Linked DNA regions of Homo sapiens. The protein of the gene in region 2 interacts with the protein of the main gene of each other region in a biochemical or structural test. Each region holds a gene or a part of one and is shown on either strand. Other genes may lie near its edges. The genes, in order: ARIH1, UBE2R2 and BTRC.

Evidence for each region.
Region 1: the proteins of UBE2R2 (region 2) and ARIH1 form a complex in vitro, tested with the Homo sapiens proteins (one study listed by BioGRID).
Region 3: the proteins of UBE2R2 (region 2) and BTRC form a complex in vitro, tested with the Homo sapiens proteins (2 studies listed by BioGRID).

The regions. Positions count from the first base shown.
Region 1 is NC_000015.10:72,561,258-72,564,909, reverse strand, and holds part of ARIH1 (E3 ubiquitin-protein ligase ARIH1), read right to left. Parts: intron 3,428-3,652; coding exon 3,361-3,427; intron 1,517-3,360; coding exon 1,410-1,516; intron 1-1,409. UniProt on the Homo sapiens protein: E3 ubiquitin-protein ligase, which catalyzes ubiquitination of target proteins together with ubiquitin-conjugating enzyme E2 UBE2L3.
Region 2 is NC_000009.12:33,820,150-33,823,801, reverse strand, and holds part of UBE2R2 (ubiquitin-conjugating enzyme E2 R2), read right to left. Parts: intron 1-3,652. UniProt on the Homo sapiens protein: E2 ubiquitin-conjugating enzyme that accepts ubiquitin from an E1 ubiquitin-activating protein, and catalyzes its covalent attachment to other proteins by an E3 ubiquitin-protein ligase complex.
Region 3 is NC_000010.11:101,357,029-101,360,680, forward strand, and holds part of BTRC (F-box/WD repeat-containing protein 1A), read left to right. Parts: intron 1-3,652. UniProt on the Homo sapiens protein: Substrate recognition component of a SCF (SKP1-CUL1-F-box protein) E3 ubiquitin-protein ligase complex which mediates the ubiquitination and subsequent proteasomal degradation of target proteins. Recognizes and binds to phosphorylated target proteins.

The DNA.
Region 1 (3,652 bases), on a different chromosome or scaffold from region 2:
GTATTAGGATGTGGAGCCTTTAGGAGGTGAATGGAATTGGCATCCTTTTTAAAAAAAAAAGGGGCCCAGAGAGCTGCCTTGTCCTTTCCACCATATGAGGACCCAGCAAGTAGGCACCATCTATGAACCAGAAAAGCAGGCCCTCGCCAGACAACAAATCTTTTGGCACCTTGATCTTGGACTTCTCACCCTTAAGAACTGTAAGAAATAAATTTATGTTGTTTAGAAGCCGCCCAGTTTATGGTCTTTTGTTATAAAAGCCTGAACATTAAGACAGAAAATGGTACCAAGAAGTGAGGGTGCTGTTCTAACAAAACCAAAAATGTGAAAGCCGATTTGAAACTAGGTAGTAAGTAGAGGCTGGAAGAGCTTGGAAGTGCAAGCTAGAAAAAGCCTAGATCACTGTGAATGAACTGAATTGTTAAGGGTAATTCTGGTGAGGATTCAGAAAGACAGAAGTGCAGGGAATGCCTCAATCATAGAGAAAACCTAAATAAATGGCCATGAACAGAATGTTGTTAGAAATATGGACAGTAAAGGCCATTATGATGAGGTCTCAGATGAAAATGAGGAACATGCTGTTAGAAACTAGAGGAAAGGCCATCCTTGCTATAAAGTGGCAAAGAAGTTGGCTGAATTGTTTTGTGGAAGGTAGAGAAATGAAACTGAATATCTGGTTGAGGAAATTACTAAGCAAAGTGTTGAAGACGCAGCTTAGCTTCTCTTGAATGTTTATAGAAAATGCAAGAAGAGATGAATGACCTAGAGATAAACTGTTCATCAAAAGGAAATAAGAAGTCAAAAATTTGAAAAATTTTCAGCCTATCCACTTTGGAAAAAACTAGAACACCTATAAAGGAGCCTGAACTGATTAAGACATCCCCTAATATGTGGCACTGGAAACTTCCTGGCAGTTCAAATCTAGAATTCAGAGGCTGAAGAGTATACTATAGAACTCCAAAAGCCCAAGTTACCAAGAAAGCTGGGCGAGAGGAGCCACAGGAAAACTCTTAGTTAAAAAGGAGACCATCAGCAGAATTTACCTGCACATTTCCTTTGCATAAGTAAGGTTAAAATTTGGCAGAGTAAAGAAAAACGTATAGTCCCAGATCTACAAGTTTGCTCCCATTAAGTTACAGTGGAGCATACAGGAAGATATGATTAGAGTTGTATATTTTCTCCATAAAAAAAAATTCAAAAAAGTTAGAACATCAAGGAAAGAGGAAAAATTTTTTTAAGATGTGACCTTTTCATTCAATTCTGAAAGAGATATATACTATTTTAAACCAGTATCAAACATCTCCCTGCCTAAGGTAAACACTTTTTTTCTGCTATTTTACTACCAAGAATAAACAGGAGAAATGGAAACGCTTTGTGCACTATTTCAATTTAGGAAATCACTTGCTTACCAAAATTGGCGCCCACATTTGCAGCGAACAGGTTTAGCATCAGGATATTGGACTTTAACAACATGGTGGCAATCTGGGGCAGGACACCACTTTAACAGTCGATTGCACTGAAATACAAGTTAGAAAATAAAAAATGACAGCTGGCTGGGCACAGTGGCTCACACCTATAATCCCAGAACTTAGGGAGGCCAAGGCGGGAGGACTGTTTGAGGTCAAGCACTCCAGACCAGCCCGGGCAACATAGCAAGACCTTGTCTCTACCTTAAAAAAAAGAAAAAAGAATTTAGCCAGGCATGGTGGTATGTGCCTGTAGTCCCGACTACACAGGAGGCTGAGGCAAGAGGATCACTTGAGCCCAGGAAGTAGAGGCTGCAGAGAGCTGTGATCATCTGCTGCACTCCAGCCTGGGTGTTAGAATGAGGCCCTGCCTCAAAAAAAGACAGCAAATTAAATTAGGTCATGATGCAAGATTTCCTAGTACATCAAGCTATTTATATTGCTTCTCTGGTACAAGGGGCAAATGGGGGATAATTACACAAGCTTATGAAAACTTGCTGTGGTCTTCTATAGCAACACTTCAGATGTGCCTTTTTTTTTTTTTTTTAAAGATGACTGATCCCTGAAGACCTGGTTTTATAAAATACATGAATCACCTCTTGTTCTATCTTCAAAATCCCACTGAATAACTTTAATTAAATATCATGTATGTGACCATTAAAAACCACTAATTTATTTACAGTTCTATTTCAGAACAATTTTCAAAAGACACAAGAAAATCAGATATACTCTTTATCAAGGAAGGTGTTTAGAAGCTACAGAATAGTTCAAGATAGGCTAAAGGATATACATACAACTTCTCCCATAAAAAGCTCTTGTAAGAAGGAAAAAAAAAAACAAACAAAAAACCCAGTTCCTAAACCACAGGCAAAGATTGCATTTTAGTTCCTCAAAAGGAAATATAACTTTTATAGTATTATGAAAAAAAAACACTCTGCACCAGAATTCAGAAGTCCATTGACCATTTCAAATAATACACTATTTCTAAAATAGGCTGTTTCCAGGTTTAATCTCTAACAGAAATAATTACTTTCTAGAATTAAAAGACCAAGTTACTGATGTTGTCATACAGGGGCTGAAAAACTCCTCTGTAACAAGCCAAGAGGGTAAAGAATTTTGGTTTTGCAGGCCAGAACAGTCTCTGTAGCAACTACTCAACTCTGCCACTGTAGCACAAAAGGAGTCATAGAACAAATGGGCAAAGGCATGGTCCAATAAAGGATAGCATTCTTTATTAACAAGATTTACTGGTAATGAAACCTAAAACGAGCAGAGAAATAGCAGGGTTAGAATCTCAAACATGATTAAACATGACACGATTAGTAATCTACTACAATTCTCAGCTAGGGATAAAGAAAAGTAAAGGAAGAATACAGTAAAAATAATTTTATTATCCAAGGTCAAGATCTATGGAGAGATGTACTTACTGGTTTCTCATACTCTTTTATTTTATTTTATTTTATTTTTTATTAAGAGGGAGTCTCGCTCTGTCACCCAGGCTGGAGTGCAGTGGCGCCATCTCGGCTCACTGCAACCTCTGCCTCCAGGGTTCAAGCGATTCTCCTGCCTCAGCCTCCCGAGTAGCTCGGATTACAGGCTTGTGCCACTGTGCCCAGCTAATTTTTGTATTTTTAGAAGAGACAGGGTTTCGCCATGTTGGTCTTGAACTCCTGATCTCAGGTGATCCACCCGCCTCGGCCTCCCTTAGTGCTGGGATTACAGGCATGAGCCACCACACCTGGCCTGTCATACTCTTTTGAGAATAAAGGTATTTTGGCATGCTTCATAAATATGTTAAAGATGTTTTTTACTGTCAATAAATTATAATTTTTAAAATAGTATTTCTATTAATAAACAGAATTCCTTCTTACAAGAAGGAAAACAAATCACTTACCTCTACAAAGCTATTTGTTATTAAATGCTGATACTTTAATTTAACTTTTGAATCTGTGATCAGGCGCCTGAAACCAAGAATAAAAATAGATTAGAAAGTTTCCAGTCAAGAGTATTTTCCACATTTATAAAACATAGTTTCAAAAGCTGTTTATGCTACGGCTACATGTTTATGCCCTAAGCTGTAAATACTGAAATGCACATAGGCTATCAACAAATATAACTGTACTGATCAGAACAATAATTTCAAAGTTTGTATAGTTTTATTTTCATAGACTTTTTTTCCATGGTTC
Region 2 (3,652 bases):
ACCCTCTGAAAAAGATACATAAAATTAGTTTACGTGTACCCATTTTCTCTGAGAAAATTCTTCAATTTCTCAAAAGAATCCCTGTCTCAAAAAGGCAAACAATCATTTTCCTAAAAAAATTTTTTCAGCCAGGCGCGGTGGCTCATGCCTGTAATCCCAGCACTTTGGGAGGCCAAGGCGGGTAGATCATCTGAGGTCAGGAGTTTGAGACCAGCCTGGACAACATGGTGAAACCCCGTTTCCACTAAAAATACAAAAATTAACCGGGCGTGCTGGCACGCACCTGTAATCCCAGCTACTTGGGAGGCTAAGGCAGGAGAACTGCTTGAACCCGGGAGGCAGAGGTTGCAGTGAGCCAAGATCGCGCCACTGCACTTCAGCCTGCGCAACAGAGCAAGACTCCATCTAGGAAAAAAAAAAATTTTTTTTCAACTATATTTTACCAATTAAAGAGTCATAAAATAGGCTGGGTGCAATGGTTCAGACCTATAATCGCAGTGCTTTGGGAGGCTGAGGCGGGAGGATTACTTGAGCCCAGGAGTTCAAGACAAGCCTGGACAACATAGCGAGACTCTGTCTCTAAAATAATAATAATAGGCTGGGCACACTGGCTCACATCTGTAATCCCAGCACTTTGGGAGGCCAAGGTGGGCAGATCACTTGAGGCCAGGAGTTCAAGACCAGCCTGGCCAACATGGCAAAACCCCATCTCTACTAAAAATTACAAAAATTAGCCAGGCATGGTGGTGCACGCCTGTAATCCCAGCTACTTGGGAGGCTGAGGCACGAGAACTGCTTGAACACAGGAGGTAAAGGTTGCAGTGAGCCGAAATCACACCACTGCAGTCCAGCCTGAGCAACAGAGCGAGACTCAGCTAAAAAAAAAAAAAAAAAATTAATAAGAAGAAGAAAAAGAAAAAAAAGAAATAAAATATCTAAATGACATTGCCAGATCTAGGCTAAGTCTGGTTTGTTTTTTTAGGGGGAAGAGGGAAGGCAGAAAATAGATTCATTCATTGCAAAACAAATGAAGCATAGGAAATAATGCATATTCTCTTATTAAAAAAAAAATTATTTGGCTGGGTGTGGTAGCTCACATCTGTAACACCAGCACTTTGGGAGGCCAAGGTGGGAGGATTGTTTGAAGCCAGGAGTTCGAGACCAGCCTGGCCTATGAGACCCTTTCTGCATAAACAATTTTTTTTTTAAATTAAAACGAGTGTGGTATGCACCTGCAGTCCCAGCTACTCAGGAGGGTGAGGCAAGAGGATCCCTTGAGCCCAAGTGTTTCAGGCTGCAGTGAGCTATGATCACACCACTGCACTCCAGCCTGGGCAACAAAGTGAGACCCTATCTCTTAAAAAAAAAAAAAAAAGGTTTTGAAGAGTTTCTTTAATGTAAGTCAGTGTAGGCCAGGTGTGGTGGCTCAGGCCTGTAATCCCAGCACTTTGGGAGGCTGAGGTGAGCGGGATCACCTGAGGTCAGGAGTTTGAGACCAGCCTAACCAACATGGAGAAACCTCGTCTCTACCAAAAATACAGAATTAGCTGGGCATGGTGGCGCATGCCTGTAATCCCAGCTACTCAGGAGGCTGAGGCAGAAGAATCGCTTGAACCCAGGAGGCGGAGGTTGCAGTGAGCCGAGATCGCTCCACTGCACTCCAGCCTGGGCAATAAGAGCAAAACTCAGTCTCAAAAAAAAAAAATATATATATATATATGTCAGTGTTGAGTCTAATAAAGATGTTCCTAATAAGGAAAACTTTAAGTATACAACAAATACTTTCTAAATTATCAGACTGGAGTTTTCTAAAAATGGAACACATCTATATTTCATTACCTCAATCAAATTATTTAATAAAATCAAAACTATAAAAGGTTGGCCAGGAGTGGTGGCTCAGGCCTCTAATTAGGATTACATTTTGGGAGGCTGAGATGGGCAGATCACTTAAGGTCAGGGGTTCAAGACCAGCCTGGCCAACATGGTGAAACCCTGTCTCTACTAAAAATACAAAAAGAATTAGCCAGGTTTCATGGCGCACGCCGGTAATCCCAGCTACTCGGGAGGCTGAGGCAAGAGAATCGCTTGAACCCAGGAGGCAGAGGTTGCAGTGAGCTGAGATCGTGCCACTGCACTCCAGCCTGGCAAAAGAGTGAGACTCCATCTCAAAAAAAAAAAAAATTTTTTTTTGTTATGCATATCATAAAAGAGGCACTCTTTCTGGCTCTAGACTCACTGCTATAATGCTTTAGATAAATAATGCAAAAGTTCCAAGGAGGTTCAGTACTAAAGCACCCACACTAAGCTACAATCCTTAGCAGGAGTTATTTGAAAAGATAGTTCCAGCCGGGCATGGTGGCTGACGCCTGTAAAACCAGCACTTTGGGTGGCTGAGAAAGGAGGATCCTTTGAACCCAGGAGTTTGAGACCAGCCTGGACAAAATAGTGAGACCCTACCTCACTTAACAATACTGAAGAAAAAAAAATTAGCCGGGCGTAGTCATGCCTGTAGTCCCAGCTACTCAGGGGGCTGAGGTGGGAGGACTGCTTGAGCCTAGGATGTGGAAGCTGCAGTGAGCCATGATCACACCACTGTACCCCAAACTAAGTGACAGAGAAAGACCCTGAAAAAGTTCCTTTCAAAAGAAAGGGGGTGAACTTGTTAAAAGTCTTCATTAGCTACTGACTTGATCCACAATTTATTTTTCTAGTAACAATAAAATTCCGACTTGCTTAGGTAGCAAAATAAGAAACTACACAAAAAGATAGTAAGGCCAAAAAAGATTGTATAGTATTCAGAATGGACAGAAGAAACTATCTTTGCCCATCCTACATCTATATGGCCCAAAACTAAGAATCACGTGGATTGGCGATATTAAATAAGCGAAAGCAGGATGAATAAAAAAATTCTGTGAAATACAGGTCTCACAAATCTCCAATGCAGATCCTGTGGGTAAGAGACAAGAGCCAACTATTTCAGGGTGAAAAAGATCAGTTAGAAACCTATTAATATATAAAAGTTAAAGGAATTACAGTATGAAAAATGTAAAGAATGACTGGCAGTCCCACTGCCTTCACGAATGACTATGCCAAAAAGGGAAAAGAGTTTAACTTGAAAATAAATTATACTAAATGTTCAAGGACTAACATTTAATAAGGGAGAAGAGTGATATGGTAGGGAAAGCTTTGTGCCAACTTTCAACTGCAGCTGTAGTGAAATACACTAAAAGCCTTGTCTTAAGACAAAAGCAGTAAAATAAAAACAATGGTTTTAAACATATCCCCAGTGTCAACTGCTCATGACCATAAATTTGCCTTTTTCTAATGAACAACTAATGGGATAAAAGGCCATATAAGGGAAAAAGTAGTCGAAAATACAATCGAACAAACTTCTCACACAAGACTAAACCATAAAACCTGTTTACAAATTTTCATACATGTCAGAATTAAAGGTAAAAACACTCAAAGCTTAAGAAATCTAACATCACAAAGCACGAGATTAAATCATTCTTTTAAACAAGGACTGAAGTTCAGAAGCATTTAATTTAAATCAGTGTATTAACACAAGGAATCCTTCCATACTTCCTATTTCAGAGAGGGTTCTCCACACTCCTTTCCCAGACTTATGCACAAATATTACAACTTGCAACCC
Region 3 (3,652 bases), on a different chromosome or scaffold from region 2:
TGAGGCAGGAGAATGGCGTGAACCCGGGAGGTGGAGCTTGCAGTGAGCCAAGATCGCGCCACTGCACTCCAGCCTGGGCGACAGAGCAAGACTCCGTCTCAAAAAAACAAACAAACAAAAAAGGAAGATATTGGCCAGGCGTGGTGGCTCATGCCTGTAATCCCAGCACTTTGGGAGGCTGAGGCGGGCGGAACACGAGGTCAGGAGATTGAGACCATCCTGGCCAACATGGTGAAACCCTGTCTCTACTAAAAATACAAAAATTAGCCAGGCCTGGTGGCGCGCACCTGTAGTCCCAGCTACTCGGGAGGCTGAGGCAGTAGAATCACTTGAACCCAGGAGGTGGAGGTTGCAGTGAGCTGAGATCGTGCCATTACACTCCAGCCTGGGTGACAGAGCGAGACTCTGTCTCAAAAAAAAAAAAAAAAAAAAAGGAAGCTATTTGAGCTAGCATCAAATAATTAGTGCACAGTACACATGGAAGAACTATCCTTTTAATCAAACGGGCATTTTTATTACTATTTGGCTTTGTTCTGGTCTTAACCTTTCCCTCAATTGTGAATCGCTAATGACAACTTTTATACAGATGTCATGATTTCCATGGTTTAAACAAATGTAAAATTAGTTTAAAATGCCAGAATGAAATGGATACTCTCACAAATTTGCTCATTGCTATACTAAAGTGCCTTGATAAAGAATTTTACAATAAAATCCTGTTAATAAGACTGCTGATTCAGAGATGACCATAATTCACACGTGATCGAGACTTAAAGCTTATTGTTTTACTTGTGAAAAAAGTTTAAGCAGAATGTTTAACTTTTAAAAACAAATAAATGATATTGAAAGCAACGGTTTACATTAACTTACGTGCTAATGTCTCTCATTCAGCTTTAGCAGGTCCTCAAGGACCTTTCTTAATACTTTTTTGGTTAACAAAAGTATAAATGGAAACTTGAAGAGAACCTAAGAAGAGAAATGAAAATGATTGAGGGAATATAGACCCCAAAACACACAAACACACACACACAAGCACGTTTAAGATAGGGGTTGAAAAGACATACTGAGGAGGAATTTGAACTTTATTTTTGTTTTCACCTTTGAGACAGGGTCTCACTATGTTGCCCAGGCTAGAGTGCAGTCATAGCTTGCTGCAGCCTCAAACTCCCAGGCTCACATGATCCTCCTGCCTCGGCGTCTCAAGTGGCTACAGGCACACACCACTATGCTGGCTATTTTTTTTTTCTTTTTTGTTTTTGTAGAGACAAGGGTCGCCCTTTGTTGACAGGGGTGGTTTTTGAACTCCTGGGCTCAAGGGGTCCTCCTGCCTTGGCCTCCCATTGTTGGGATTACAGGCGTGAGCCACCTTGCCAAGCCACGTTTATTTTTAAAAACAGGATAAATATATTCTTGTCCAGCCAATCCCAGAATCAAGTACAGTAGCTTGAAATAGATGAAATAATTTTAGAATGTATTGTTTTATTTATAGAGCTGATAGATAAATGAAACAGTATAAAGGGTAAATATTTGCTGTTTAACAGACAACCTCAAAACTTAGCTTAAAAAAAACAATTATTTTTCCCCTCAAATCTGATGGTTTTTCTGCTTCACTTGGTATTGGCTGAGGTGTGGGAAAGACCTTCACTTCTCCTCTATATGGGCCTTTCTCTACCTGGCTGCTTGGATTTCCTTAAAGTGTGGTGGCAAGGTTCTAAGAAGGGACATTCCAGGAGACAGGAGGTAGAGACTGCCAGTCTTCTAAATCCTAGATTTGGAAGTCCAAGAATGTCACTGTGGGTCAAAGCCAGTCAAGGCCAACTACAGAGGGAGGAGAAATAATGTCTACCTATTGATAGGAAGGGTGGCGTGCATAAACAAGGAAGGGGGAATTGCTGGGGGCCACCTTTTGAGACTTGCTACCGTAGGTGCTATGCTAGTTGGATGTTAAGGCTAAAAATAAAAATGGTATCGGCCAAGTTTGTGGGTCATAATGCTAGGAATGTTTAGGAGGCATCTCTTTTTTTGAGGTTAACTTCGGAAGGCACTAACATGATCTCCTGCGTGACTTCCCTTAATGATGTCACTGTTGACATAATACTGGGTGAATTAATGTGATTAAGTAAACTTGCTTACTTACTTCAGGAAACAGAGGTATCTAAACAGATTACATTTTAAAATAAATTGTCAGATGTTTCACTGTAATGGAATTTTCTTTACATCAGTGAAATTGATTACCAGGTAGTGGGATGAACATCTGAAACTAGTTCTTAGTTTAAGTTGTCTGAGTTTTTGTGTATACTTTACCTATTCCCAGTTTAAATTGGCTTTCAAACAGTTTGTTTTCTGGGTACTCTTATAGGTGTTGGGGTATGAAATTAGTGGTAATTCTTTTTGCCTATTTTCTTTTTTTTTGTCTGAGATACCCTGAGTCTCGCTCTGTTGCCCAGACTGGAGTGCAGTGGCACAATTTCGGTTCACTGCAACCTCCGCCTCCTGGGTTCAAATGATTCTCCTGCCTCAGCCTCCTAAGTAGCTGGAATTACAGGCGTGTACCACCTTGCCTGGCTAATTTTGTTGTATTTTTTTTTTTTTGAGATGGAGTTTTGGTCTTGTTGCCCAGGCTGGAGTGCAATGGTGCAAACTCAGTTCACTGCAACCTCTGCTTCTGAGGTTCAAGTGATTCTCCTTCCTCAGCCTCCCCTGTAGCTGGGATTACAGGCATGCACCACCACACCCAGCTAATTTTGTATTTTTGGTAGAGACAGGGCTTTTCCATGTTGGTCAGGCTGGTCTCGAACTCCCAACCTCAGGTGATCTGCCCGCCTTGGCCTCCCAAAGTGCTGAGATTACAGGCGTGAGCTGCCGTGTCCGGCCTCTTTTTGCTAATTTTCTAAATTTATGTTTATAGTAGATTTTCATAAATTATCAAAAGTGAATTATTAGATGTGGAGTAAAAATTCAACTTTGAGTAGTTTTAGAAATTATTTATTGCTAAATTAGAAAATAAACTTTCAAAAGAGATCTCTTTTTTTTAAAAAAACTTAATTGAGACAGGGTCTCACTCTGTCACCCAGGCTGGAGTACAGTGGTGCAACCTTGGCTCACTGCAGCCCCTACCTCCTGGGTTCAAGCAATTCTTGTGCCTCAGCCTCCCAGGTAGCTGGGAATACAGGCATGTGCCACCACGCCCAGCTAAATTTTGTGTTTTTAGTAGAGACAGGGTTTCACCGTGTTGCCCGGGCTGGTCTCGAACTCCTGACTTCAAGTGATCCGCCCACCTTGGCCTCCCAAAGTGCTGGGATTACAGGCGTGAGTCACTATGCCTGGCCTAGAGATGGGATCTGCTTTTTTTTTTTTTTTTTTTTTGAGATGGAGTCTTGCTCTGTCACCCAGGCTGGAGTGCAATGGCACGATCTCAACTCACTGCAACCTCCGCTTCCCAGGTTCAGGCAATTCTCCTGTCTCAGCCTCCTAAGTAGCTGGGATTACAGGCACCTGCCATCATCCCTGACTAATTTTTGTATTTTTGTAGACGGGGTTTCACCATGTTGGCCAGGCTATTCTTGAACTCCTGACCTCAGGTGATCCGACCGCCTCGGCCTCCCAAAGTGCTGGGATTATAGGCATTAGCTACCGCGTCTGGCCTCTAGAGATG